Regions from separate parts of the Homo sapiens genome. Here region 2 is linked to region 1. Evidence: fine-mapped expression QTL. A gene starts in region 1. The other region holds a variant in brackets. All regions are shown on one strand. Distances are from middle to middle.

Region 1 (5,373 bases):
GTAAAAAATGAGGCGCTGTACAACAGGATAAAGACCAAAACACCACCACCACCACCACCAACACCATAACCCGTATCTGTCTAATAAGTTTTATTTGGAGGAGCTCTTTCCCAGGCCCATTTTTCTCCCACTGCTCCTGTCCCCCAGAGAGGGAACGCGCTTCTCATTACAATCAGCGCTGCTCTGGGAGACCGACTCCCAAAATGCCGTAAAACAGAGGAGCAACCAGGGTCAACTGGAAAGCAGAAACCAAAGAACCCAGATTCCTTTTCTGAGCAAACACAGCGATGGGCCAGTGGGATTTTAGCTTGGGGATATTGGACCCAGTCTTCTCAAAAACTTCCTACCAGAAGGTTTGTGTTAGCGGGTGTCCCATGACCACGATCTCAATAGCATGTGGCTTACATATCTTCCAGGCTCGAATTCAGGGTTCTAGGTTCTAGTCCTCCACCCCTAACTAACATGCTTGGTGGAAGAAACTCAGATTAGTCACATTTCAGCTTGGACCTTTCCAGCTGTAGTAGCAGGCAGCCACAGGGGGAGTCACCTTGCTGAAAAAAACTCACTGGACGCCCCCTGAAAAGAGGTCTTGAGTTGTTCCGAGTCGGACGCTGACTCCTAGTCGGCTACAGAACCCTTGGCCACCGGACATTTAAAGACGTTCTATTTGAGGTCCACCCGGGCGGCCCAGAAGTGTTGGCCACCTTCCAGAAGGGAAGTAGGAGAGAGCAGGGGGACCCCGAGGGGCCCGGGGCGTTCCCCGCGGGGCGGGGCGCTCCTGACTGCGGAGCGCCGTGGGCAGGGGCGCAGGTGAGCAGAGCGAGCGGAGCTGGCCGCGGCCGTCCTGGCGCCTCCGCCCTCCCGGCGCCCGCACTGCGCTGCACCCCGGCCCGGGGGGCGGGCGAGGGCTCTGCCCCACCGCCCGGGGGCTGCCAAGGGGAGTTGGGGCGGCGACGTGGGCGTCCCGGGACTGTGCGCCCGCACCCGCCCCGACAGGGTGCGCTGAGGCGCCGGGGCCGCCACTGGCTGCGGGCGCTGGGCGCGGCAGCCGCGGGAGCCGCAGGTGGTTCCCGGGCCGGCCCTTTTCTCCTCCCCCTTTCCTTTCTTTCGCCTCCCCTCCCTCTCGCCCGGTGTCGGCGGCACTTCCCTCGCTTCCTCCTCCCTCTCCAATCCGGAGGGAGGGAAGGAGCAGCCGGCGCTTTCCTGCCCGCCTGCAAACTTCAGCGGGACTCGCGGCTCCCCTCGCCGCCGCGGCCGCCGCCGCCCAGAGCTGCCCCTGGAACTTCCTCTCGCCGCGCGGCCCGCGAAGCCCTGCGGGTGGAGGAACGCCGCCGGGCGCCAGGCAGCCACGGCTCGGACCCCATTCCTGCCCCGCGCCGCCCGGGTGCCCGCTCGCCCGCGCGCCCGTCCGTCCGTCCGTCCTTCCTGCCCGCCCGGCCTCTCCCCTGCGGGCAGGGGCCGCCAGGCTTCCCTCGGCGCCCCGCCGCTGCCCGGGACTTCCTTTGTGTTGGATGCAGGCTGGCGCCCCGCGCCGACGGGAGGCAGACTGAGGGATCCCGCGCCGCCGGCCCGCCCCCGCCATGCCCTTCCACCAGAGGACCCTGGAGCCCGCGCGGCTGCGCCGGCCCGAGGCGGCGGGGGCCGGGGCTGCGGGCGCGCCACTCTTCCGCTCGCTGGAGCAGGTCAGCTCGCATGCCCTGGGCTGCCTGCTGGCGCAGCTGGCCGACCTGTCGCGCTGCGCCGGGGACATCTTCGGCGAGCTCGAGGGCCAGGCGGCCGCGCTGGGCCACCGCACCGCCGCGCTGCACCGCCGCCTCGACGCCCTGCAAGCCGCCGCTGCGCGCCTGGACCACCGCCGAGTGAAAATCCGTGAGTGGCCGGCGGGCCGGGGGAGGGGAACCGGCGGGGGAGGCACCCGGAGAGCTGCTCCCGCCCGCCCCCTGGCGGCCCTGGGTCGGCGCGGGGGCCGCGGAGCCCCGCGATGTCGGGGTCTCCAGTGGGGACTGCCGGACCCCAGCGGGAGGCTGGGCAGGTGGCAGGGGCGCAGAGCGCTCTGTGACTTTCGGACTCCTGGAGGGTCTTGGCTACCTCGAGAGAGTGGGCGCGGAGGGTGGGAATTGGACAGTCCCCTTGTCTGCTCCTTCTGTCTGTCTGTGTCTGTCTGTTTGGGAGACCCCGGGGCGCTGTAGACAGAGGAGAGCCAAGTTCGTGGGAAAACTGTCACAGGCAGGTAGCCTGTTGGAAAAGCCAGGGGAGAATATAAATTTGGGCATATAGTAGTTACAGTTTTGGAGACTTCAGGACGATCCGTTTGTAAAACCCTGGGGATCTCGGCGAGCGTTGGGGCTGCTTGCCACCTCTCTTCCCGCCGCCTACCTGTGTTCTTACCGACAAGCAAAACTATGCAGACTTTAAGGGTTTTCCCATTTGGCGCAGAATTTTCTTTCTTCTCCCAGACTGACCCACCAGCTCTTTGTGATTCAGAAGACGTTGACCTTGAGTTCAGGCTCTGAATCCCATTCATCTTTGTCCGGCTTCCTCCAACCCTGAAAGTCAAGTCTATGTCCTGATATAGTGATCTCTCCGGTGATCCATTTCATTTCAGCAGCTTAACTGGCTCCGGTGAATGAAGCAACTGGAATTTCCTGCTGGCCCAAAGCAGAGAAACTTTCAGTGTGATGTCTCTGTGGTTTCTCCCTTTTAAGTACGTGAACTTGGTCATAATCCTAAGTGTAAAGAATAAATTGGAGATGGTTGATGGATTGCTGGGTGGGAGGGGAGATGTTGATGTAACACACGCCTAGATTTCAGCAGCTCTGGATGAAATAGTTTTTTCTCCTAGAATCACTTCATATGCAATCTCGAATAGCTCGTTTTCCAGCTAGCTAGAAAAACTTAGCTATATTTTAACTACCTTACAGCCTAAGAGTTCAAAATTTTCAATTATTTAATTTCAGTGAGATTGCTTGCTATAATACATCTTTCTCCAAGTTGTATAATTAATTCGTGGCAGTTTTACATTTTTGCGTTCATCTCTTTGATTGTGCCGTCAACACATTCATATGAATTGTGGACAGTTCCCAACCTGGGAGAGCGTCCCCCTCCAAGAAAAAAAAATCAGTGGGGAGGAATCAAAGTGATCTCATAAGGTTGTTGACATAATCAGAATATATCTACTTAATGTGAGTGATGACTTCATGCATATGGTAGGATACACTGTCCTAGTAGGATGTCATGGTCTATGCGGCAATCACGAGTTGCTTCTATGCGTTTTCTGTCTAGGGTGTAGGTACGTGGGAGAACCAGAATTTTACCCTTGACAAAGAATGTGATGAGGGAGATCTGATTGATAGGTGAACTGATCTATTGTGGGAATTAAAAAACAAGAGGAAACTCCCTGAAGGTCAAGAACTCCTTCCTTTACTAGTTTGGTTTTACATTTAAATGTATCACTTTTCTCTGTTCTTTAGTACATATGCCCCAATAGGCTACTGTCCATAGCCAGAAATCCCCCAAATTCTCCATATTAACTAAGGTTGTTCTAATTACAGTAACTGAAATAACTCTTTTCAAAACTTTTCACAAGTTTGTTTGAATCTTAAGTGGTTGTGATTTCATACCTGTCTTCCAGGCTGGAGTGCTGTGGTGCAATCTCAGCTCACTGCACCCTCCGCCTCCTGGGTTCAAGCAATCCTCCTGCCTCAGCCTCTAGAGTACCTGGGATTACAGGCGCCCGCCACCACGCCCGGCTAATTTTTGTATTTTTAGTAGAGACAGGGTTTCGCCATGTTTGTCAGGCTGGTCTTTAACTCCCAACCTCAGGCGATCCACCTGCCTCGACCTCCCAAAGTGCTGGGATTACAGGTGTGAGCTACCACACGTGGCCCCATTTTTTTTTTTTTAATAATCATGCAAGAAGGCTTTTTATTGAATATAATTATGCCTGAGTATAAATGTACATGTAGAGAAGAAAGCTGACTATCAAGACATTAATTTTTGTGGTTTCTTTCACCTTCACACACTTTGCTTTTTTATGTGCTTAAAAGCAGTGAAATGCCTATGCATTACCATCTGTTAGGATTCTTTTAAAACAATGCCTCAAACCTTGTTTCTGTGTAAAAACTACAGTTTGAAGTTGTTCTGCCATTTTAGGCAGGTCTTCAGAATATCATACTCCATTAGTATGGATGGCTAGACTTTTAGACTTGGAATTGACCGTAAAGGCCATCCATTTCGTGAATTCTTACCCAGAGAGGAAATCCAGTCCAACAGCATTGCAGTTAATTCACCCCAGGTTAGGCTGTGGGTAATGACACATCCGGGCCTGAAGCCCAAACCTTCTGATTGTCTCGCCTGTCGTCCCACTGCCTGTGTTCCTTCCCTTTAGAAGAGTGTGGAGCCAGGCACAGTGGCTCATGCCTGTAATCCCAGCACTTTGGGAGACCAAGGTGGGCGGATCATTTGAGGCTAGGAGTTCAAGATCAGCCTGGCCAACATGGCGAAACCCCGTCTCTACCAAAAATACAAAAATTAGCGAGACTGTCTCAAAAAAAAAAAAGGTGTGGAAATGGGGAGCAAAGTTTAGATATGTTCCTTAAACAGTCCTAAGGATAACTGTGACCGTTAATTCCACCCTTCTTGTCAGATAAACCATTTAATGAGTCTCCCCAGGAGCAATTAACAGAATCCAGCAGTTTACCAAAAGCCTCTAGCAGTTGGGGACAGCATATTTCAGTGACCAATAATAGCTTTCTACCATAAGAAAGGATGTGAGAATGTCAGTGGAACAATTTAAAAAAATGTATAAACACTCTTTGCAATACAGAGACAGTATTTTAGTCCTGTGGGCTGGCCCTGCTGGCCTCAATGATCCTGAGAGGTATTTCATCAAGTTTGCCATTCCTCAAAATCTCATGGGTAGAAAGTTATCCAAAATAATTTTTTGTCATGCCTTGGGGAGAATGCATGTTATTATTCTGTTCATTGAAGACTCCTACTTTCTTTCCCTGACACCCCCAGGTTGAGGGGCTGTTCCCATGGCATTGGTTCACCTCGATCACCACATTTACCAAGGGGACTTCTGCACCCCTCTGCCAGACAGCAGGACCTTTGAGGTCCAGGATGGCCGAGTCTTTGTTTTTCTAGAGCTTAGAACAATGCCTGGATGTGATAGCTCAATAGATGTTTGAATTGAATTAATACTTAGTGACTTAGTGCTTACTGTCAGGAAGAATAACTATAAAAACCTTAGGGAGGAAGGAGGATGGATCTTTTGAGGCAGGTGGATCAGTTGAGGCCAGGAGCTCAAGACTAGCCTGGCCAATATGTTGAAACCCCGTCCCTACTAAAAATACAGTACTAAATACAATACTA
Region 2 (5,373 bases), 97 kb after region 1:
ATGAGTATCACATAGCCAATATAATACATCTATTCATGCATGCTTAAAAAGTCAATATAATGTCCTACCTGCAATGTAAGGAGAAATTAAAGAAGGCCATTTTTACCTTTTCATATTCATTGCTCACACAAAACTGTACTTACTGGAAGATGGAATGAAACCGTTGGATGCTTACATGTGTGTGGAATTACCATGATGAAAAGCTAGTGACTCAAACACTACAAGCGGTTAGGTGGTCAGTGATATGATTTTTCAGAAATGGTGAACAATTCCTGCCAAAATTCCAAAGTAAGCAAGGAGTCTACACTAGAATAACCAGAAACGAACAACATGTACCCGGGACCTGGAAGTGAGGCGTGTATGGTGATGTTTGATTTGAATTTTGGACTAAAGTTCCGTGATGATTAATAGCACAGGCAGCCAAATGAAAAACTTGTCAAATCAATAGTTACGTAGATTTTACTATTAAAAGGAAATAACAGTATCTGAGATGGAATTAAAATTTCCAGGCTCCTAAAATCATTTCCTGTAAATTCTTTGTTCTTTAGGCTATATGACACCAGATCAAAACTTCGGAAACTAACCAGCCATTTTTATGGATTGATGCTTCATATGCCAGCACTGAATTAGGCTTTTGTATTCTATTCGCTGTTTGCAGGTCTTAACTTTTTGTTTTTCTTTTTGAGACAGAATCTCACTCTGTCGCCCAGGCTGGAGTGCCGTGATGTGATCTTGGCTCACTGCAGCCTCTGCCTCCCAGGTTCAAGCGATTCTCCTGCCTCAGCCTCCTGAGTATCTGGGATTACAGACATCCGCCACCACACCTGGCTAATTTCTTATATTTTTTGGTAGAGACAGGGTTTTGCCACGTGGGCCAGGCTGATCTCAATCTCCTGGTAGGTCTTAACTTCTGATTGCAAGGCGGGAACCCTGAGCACTTCAAACTCTGCTTGAGAGAGTTTTTCTGTCACGCTTAACTCACGCAAGGTAGGAATGAATAATTTGCTGCTGCCGCTGCCTCTAGAGACTATTTTAAAGGATTATCTCATGGAAGCTTTCAGAACTTCCCCCCCACCCCCGCCAATTGAATGTGGGTGAGAAACGGACGTGAACTTAAAAAACTTACCAAGCTTGGTTCACCTCTCAGGAGCAGGTCTGCTTAAATTAGCTGCATTGAGCTCCTCGATGTCCTTTTGCGGCGCTGCTGATTCTTTCAAGAACCTTGGCTACCTTGCCAAATGTATCACTCCTTTATAATCTTAAGCGTTTTAACAAATGAAATACAGTTCAGTTTCTGCACTTGGTTTTAAATGTCATGATGTGTCTCAGCAATCCACTTAGTCCATCAAAATCACATTTTGACTTGTCCACATAATCCTTTTAGACTGTTTCTGGATTTATTAAGTGCTTTTTCATGCAGTTGATGAAAAAGCTTTCATTTTAAAAATAATTTCCACATGACGCTGGAGGCCTCCCATTGTAGTTTAACAATAGTTGAGATGTTGTATTGTTTATTCAAAACTGCCAAGTAGCGTCAGTGCTGGTGGATGGGAACCCTGGATGGAATGCTGGGAGAGCCCTGGGGAGGTAATTTAACCTCTTCGTTGTTCAGTCCTGATGTCCAGTGGGTTTCAGCAGCGTGTCTAGGTTTACTCCATTGCCAGGCAGAGGTAGATTCTGCCTCCTCTGCCCCTTTGCATTCCTTGGATCGACCATTGACTACTGGAAGGCATTCAGACCATTACCTTTCTATGCCTTTTCCTTTGCATAAGACCTGCAAAGGAAAACATACTTTCATCCTGGATATTTTTTGGTTTTAGCTTCCAAGTAGGGTTTATGGCCTTTTTTTCTCTTGGGGTTGGGAAGAAGGGCAGTGTTGGAGAGGAAGAGACCCAGAAACACCACCATGCTAATAATAAGGAGGAGAAAGTCGGGCCATGTTGGAGTCCCTCTGCCAATTATACAGATCGTGGCACATAGGTGCAAGGGTGGCATGGCAACCTCTGGACCCCTCACTTTCCACTTTCTCTTACCCATTGTCTCCATAGGACTCAGCGTTTTGTTTCCGAAATCTTTCAACTTCACCTGTATGCTGTGCTATTCTTACCCATTCATTGTACATAAATATCTTTTCTGCTGATTAAAAAAATTCAAGAAAGGAAAGAGGGAGAGAATCTTTTTATAATTGATTCCAGGTTACCCTATGATATTGAAGTTATTGAAATTCACTTTTGTAAAAAAGACTTAATATATCTGTTTTAAAAAAAGAGATAGGGTGTCACTCTGTTGCCTAGGCTAGAGCACAGTGACAGGATCACAGCTTACTGCAGCCTAGAACTCCCGGGGCACAAGTGATCCTCCCACCTTGGCCTCCTGAGTAGCTGGGACTACTGGTGCTTGCCACCACAGCCAACTAATTTTTAAATATTTTTTGCAGAGACAAGATCTCGTTATGTTGCCCAGGCTGGTCTCACACTCCTGACCTCAAGTGACCCTCCTGCCTTGGCCTCCCAAAGTGCTAGGATTACGG[G/A]CATGAGCCACTGTACCCAGCCTATATCTTTACTTTTAACTCTCTTCCTCTTCTTAGTGGCTGGTCCTTTTCCTGACATATACTGCCTAGAGACTGTATGCATAAAATAGCTTAAGTAAATATTATTTAGAAAGAAAATGGTTTTCAAAAAATCACTTTTTATCTTCTGTAGGTGATTGACGTACTTAGAAGGCCTGCAGAGGCCTACACCCTGTGATGTATATTGTACAGTAGGCTTGGCTTCAGCATAGTGGGAATCTCTGGTTTTGAATTTCTAAAGTGACTTGCAAAGGTCCAAGACATATAGTGAAATGTTGAGTTGCAAATTAGGGTCATGTGCTGGATGGGGCTTGTGCTGGGGAACAGGGTCTGGGCTCACGTGTGAACCAGCAGCCAGCTAACCACAGCAGGCGGCCCCTGAACGATTTTGTGGTGCACTCCTTGTTTTAAGCACTTTGCTCCTTTCAAAGTACATTTTTCTTTCTTTGTGAAAATCATCTAGAAAAGAAAAAGTCCACTTTTGAGTGAGTGATACAGAGAAATCTGTAAACTTGGGGTCTCATTAAAATCTTGCTATGTAGCCCTTTCCTTGTCAGTGTCAACGTGCTCAATTTAAAGTACACACCCTCTCAATTATTTGTCTGTTGTCTAGCTCTTCCTAGGAAGCAGAAGAGTGGTTTTCAGCTCTCGGTGCTGCTTATTGGGGATCGTATTGTATTTTGTAGATTTGGCAATGGGCCCATACATCTGTGGAGTGAAAAGCTCCCTAGGTGATTCTGATGTACAGCCATGGTCAAAAAACATTGAAATAGACAAGTGCATGAAGATCAAAGAGTTGAGGGAAAACACTCAACGATGTCACGTCAGTCCCCAAGAACAGGTACAGGGGCTGTTTTTGCTTAGAGCCGGGGAGGAGTTGCAGAAGCCCCGCGAAATTGGCAGTCCTATTGGCAGTAAATTAAGCTCTCAAGGATTGAGTTCTACGTAGCTTCATTCTCCCAAATGACTGAATAGATACTCCCACCTTGTCCTGAAATAGTTGTGAATGAGAGTCTAACTGTTCTTTGCTACTGAATACCAAAAATACTAGTACTTTAGCCAAACCCTTTCTCTGTTGCTTAGAAGCTGCTGAATCAGTGTAGTGCATTTCTCCTATTTTATCCACATCCCCCAACCACATAATTAATGTGATCAAAATAAACTGACCCCCACCACATCCCTGGAAATTTACAGCAACATTAGCATGTCAAAGGCTGGGAAAGTCCTGTAGTGAACAAGACAAAAAACCTTTTAAAAACTTTGTTTGCCCTAAGCTTATTTGCATAGGAAGATACTTTTTGCTCCTATACCTACAACTGAACAGTTTTTCCTTAACACCAGTTTGGGAAAAACTGCCCAAGTCACTTTTTGATTCAGCAGTTTTCTTAGAGTTAATTTCTGACAGCTGAACCTCTCTTTAAAATCCTCTTTGAAGTTGGACTGAATTAACAAATGGAAGGCTTGGCAAAGCAGTTTACTAATTCATAACTCTATCCCTCAGCTTTCTTTGTGTTGCTAAATACTATAATCTTTGACCCGAAAGGAAGAATACTGCTAACAAGTAAATATTTAAAAGGTCCCATGAAATATAATGTGCATGAGTTTGTGCCTGGGGAGACCGTCTACTGGAAGAAAGAAATGACTCACTTTTCATCTCCTAATGAAAGTGAGTTTGTTGTTTTACAGTAGGTTGAAAGGAAGTATTTTGAGTGCTAAGGGCTAGATTTCCTTTTATTTTTAAGTTTAGTTAGCCGTTGGCCTCACTGATTTGAGAATTGCATGTTAAGTCATAATTCCTAAGTGCGTCAGCACTCTCTCTCTGTATGAGTGAATTAGCATGATTGTGAATGAATGAACTCTGTGCTACCAAAGCCCAGCATTTGGAACAGTGAGAGGAAACGGAAACGTGACTCACTGATGTACTTGAAGACTATGAACGGGGAATCACGAACTTCAGAGCCAGACCTGAAGCATGGGAGAGTGGGCAGAGCCTGGACTGGGGCAAGGACAACGGGATTCTAGTCCTAGCAGTGCTCCTGACTGCCTCCGTGTCAGTGCTGGAATCACAGAACCCGTCTACCTCCTGTGATTAATAGGACATGTGAATTATTTGTCACTCGGATCCTTTACAGTTTCAGGATTCAATAAGTCTTTGAATTCTACTGATTCTCTGGTTTGTGTGGAAGTGGGTGTGTATGTTTTAATGGCTTTCAGATGGGATTCATCCAGGCTCCATTAAATCAACTTTATTTTTAATTTTGAAGTGAACTGCCATGACAGAGTTTGGCTAGGAAAGTCCATAACAGAAAATGAGGAAGCAAGTAAACTGATTTATAAGGCTGTGGGCAACTGACTTCCTGTGGCTGTGGCATTTGGTATATAGAATGATATATATGTGATGCTTTTGGAGAAAGGTTAATTATTGTCTACAGGCAAAATTTTTGCTCCATCACAATTGCTTTTAAAAAGCTGAAATAGCAGCTCCTAGCCACCCTGTTTCATATGTCTTACGATATTTAGAAAATATTTAGACCAGCCCACTAAAATATATCCACACACCTTTTTCCTTAAGGGCAATTACCTGCATACTTGTCAGTTTTCACTCTTTAGTTCTGGATATGTAGGGGTTTTTTTTGTTGTTGTTTTTTGTTTTTTGTTGTTTTTTGTTTTTTTGTGCGACAGTCTCGCTCTGTCGCCCAAGCTGGAGTGCAGTGGAGCAATCTTGGCTCACTGCAGCCTCCACCTCCTGGGTTCAAGTGATTCTCATGCCTCAGCCTGAGACTGTAGTAGCTGGGATTACGGGC

What was found.
Region 2: its variant is fine-mapped to the expression of NHSL1-AS1 in whole blood (INTERVAL, PIP 0.95).

The regions. Positions count from the first base shown.
Region 1 is chr6:138,688,972-138,694,344 of GRCh38, reverse strand. NHSL1-AS1 (NHSL1 antisense RNA 1) reads right to left here and starts at 2,677. Exons shown (of 4, transcript NR_033896.1): 1 at 2,377-2,677. LOC124900217 (collagen alpha-1(III) chain) reads right to left here and starts at 1,619. Exons shown (of 2, transcript XM_047419637.1): 1 at 1-1,619. The coding sequence starts at 1,582. The coding sequence ends at 653. It also overlaps a transcript of NHSL1 not described here. RefSeq lists silencers at 831-970, 1,011-1,070, 1,551-1,900, 1,911-1,960 and an enhancer at 2,083-3,282.
Region 2 is chr6:138,592,471-138,597,843 of GRCh38, reverse strand. It overlaps a transcript of NHSL1 not described here. Among named protein-coding and RNA genes, the nearest start is that of NHSL1, 96 kb to the right of the region's middle. RefSeq lists enhancers at 4,240-4,309, 4,338-4,632. The variant G/A (reference allele first, on the strand shown) is at 2,531.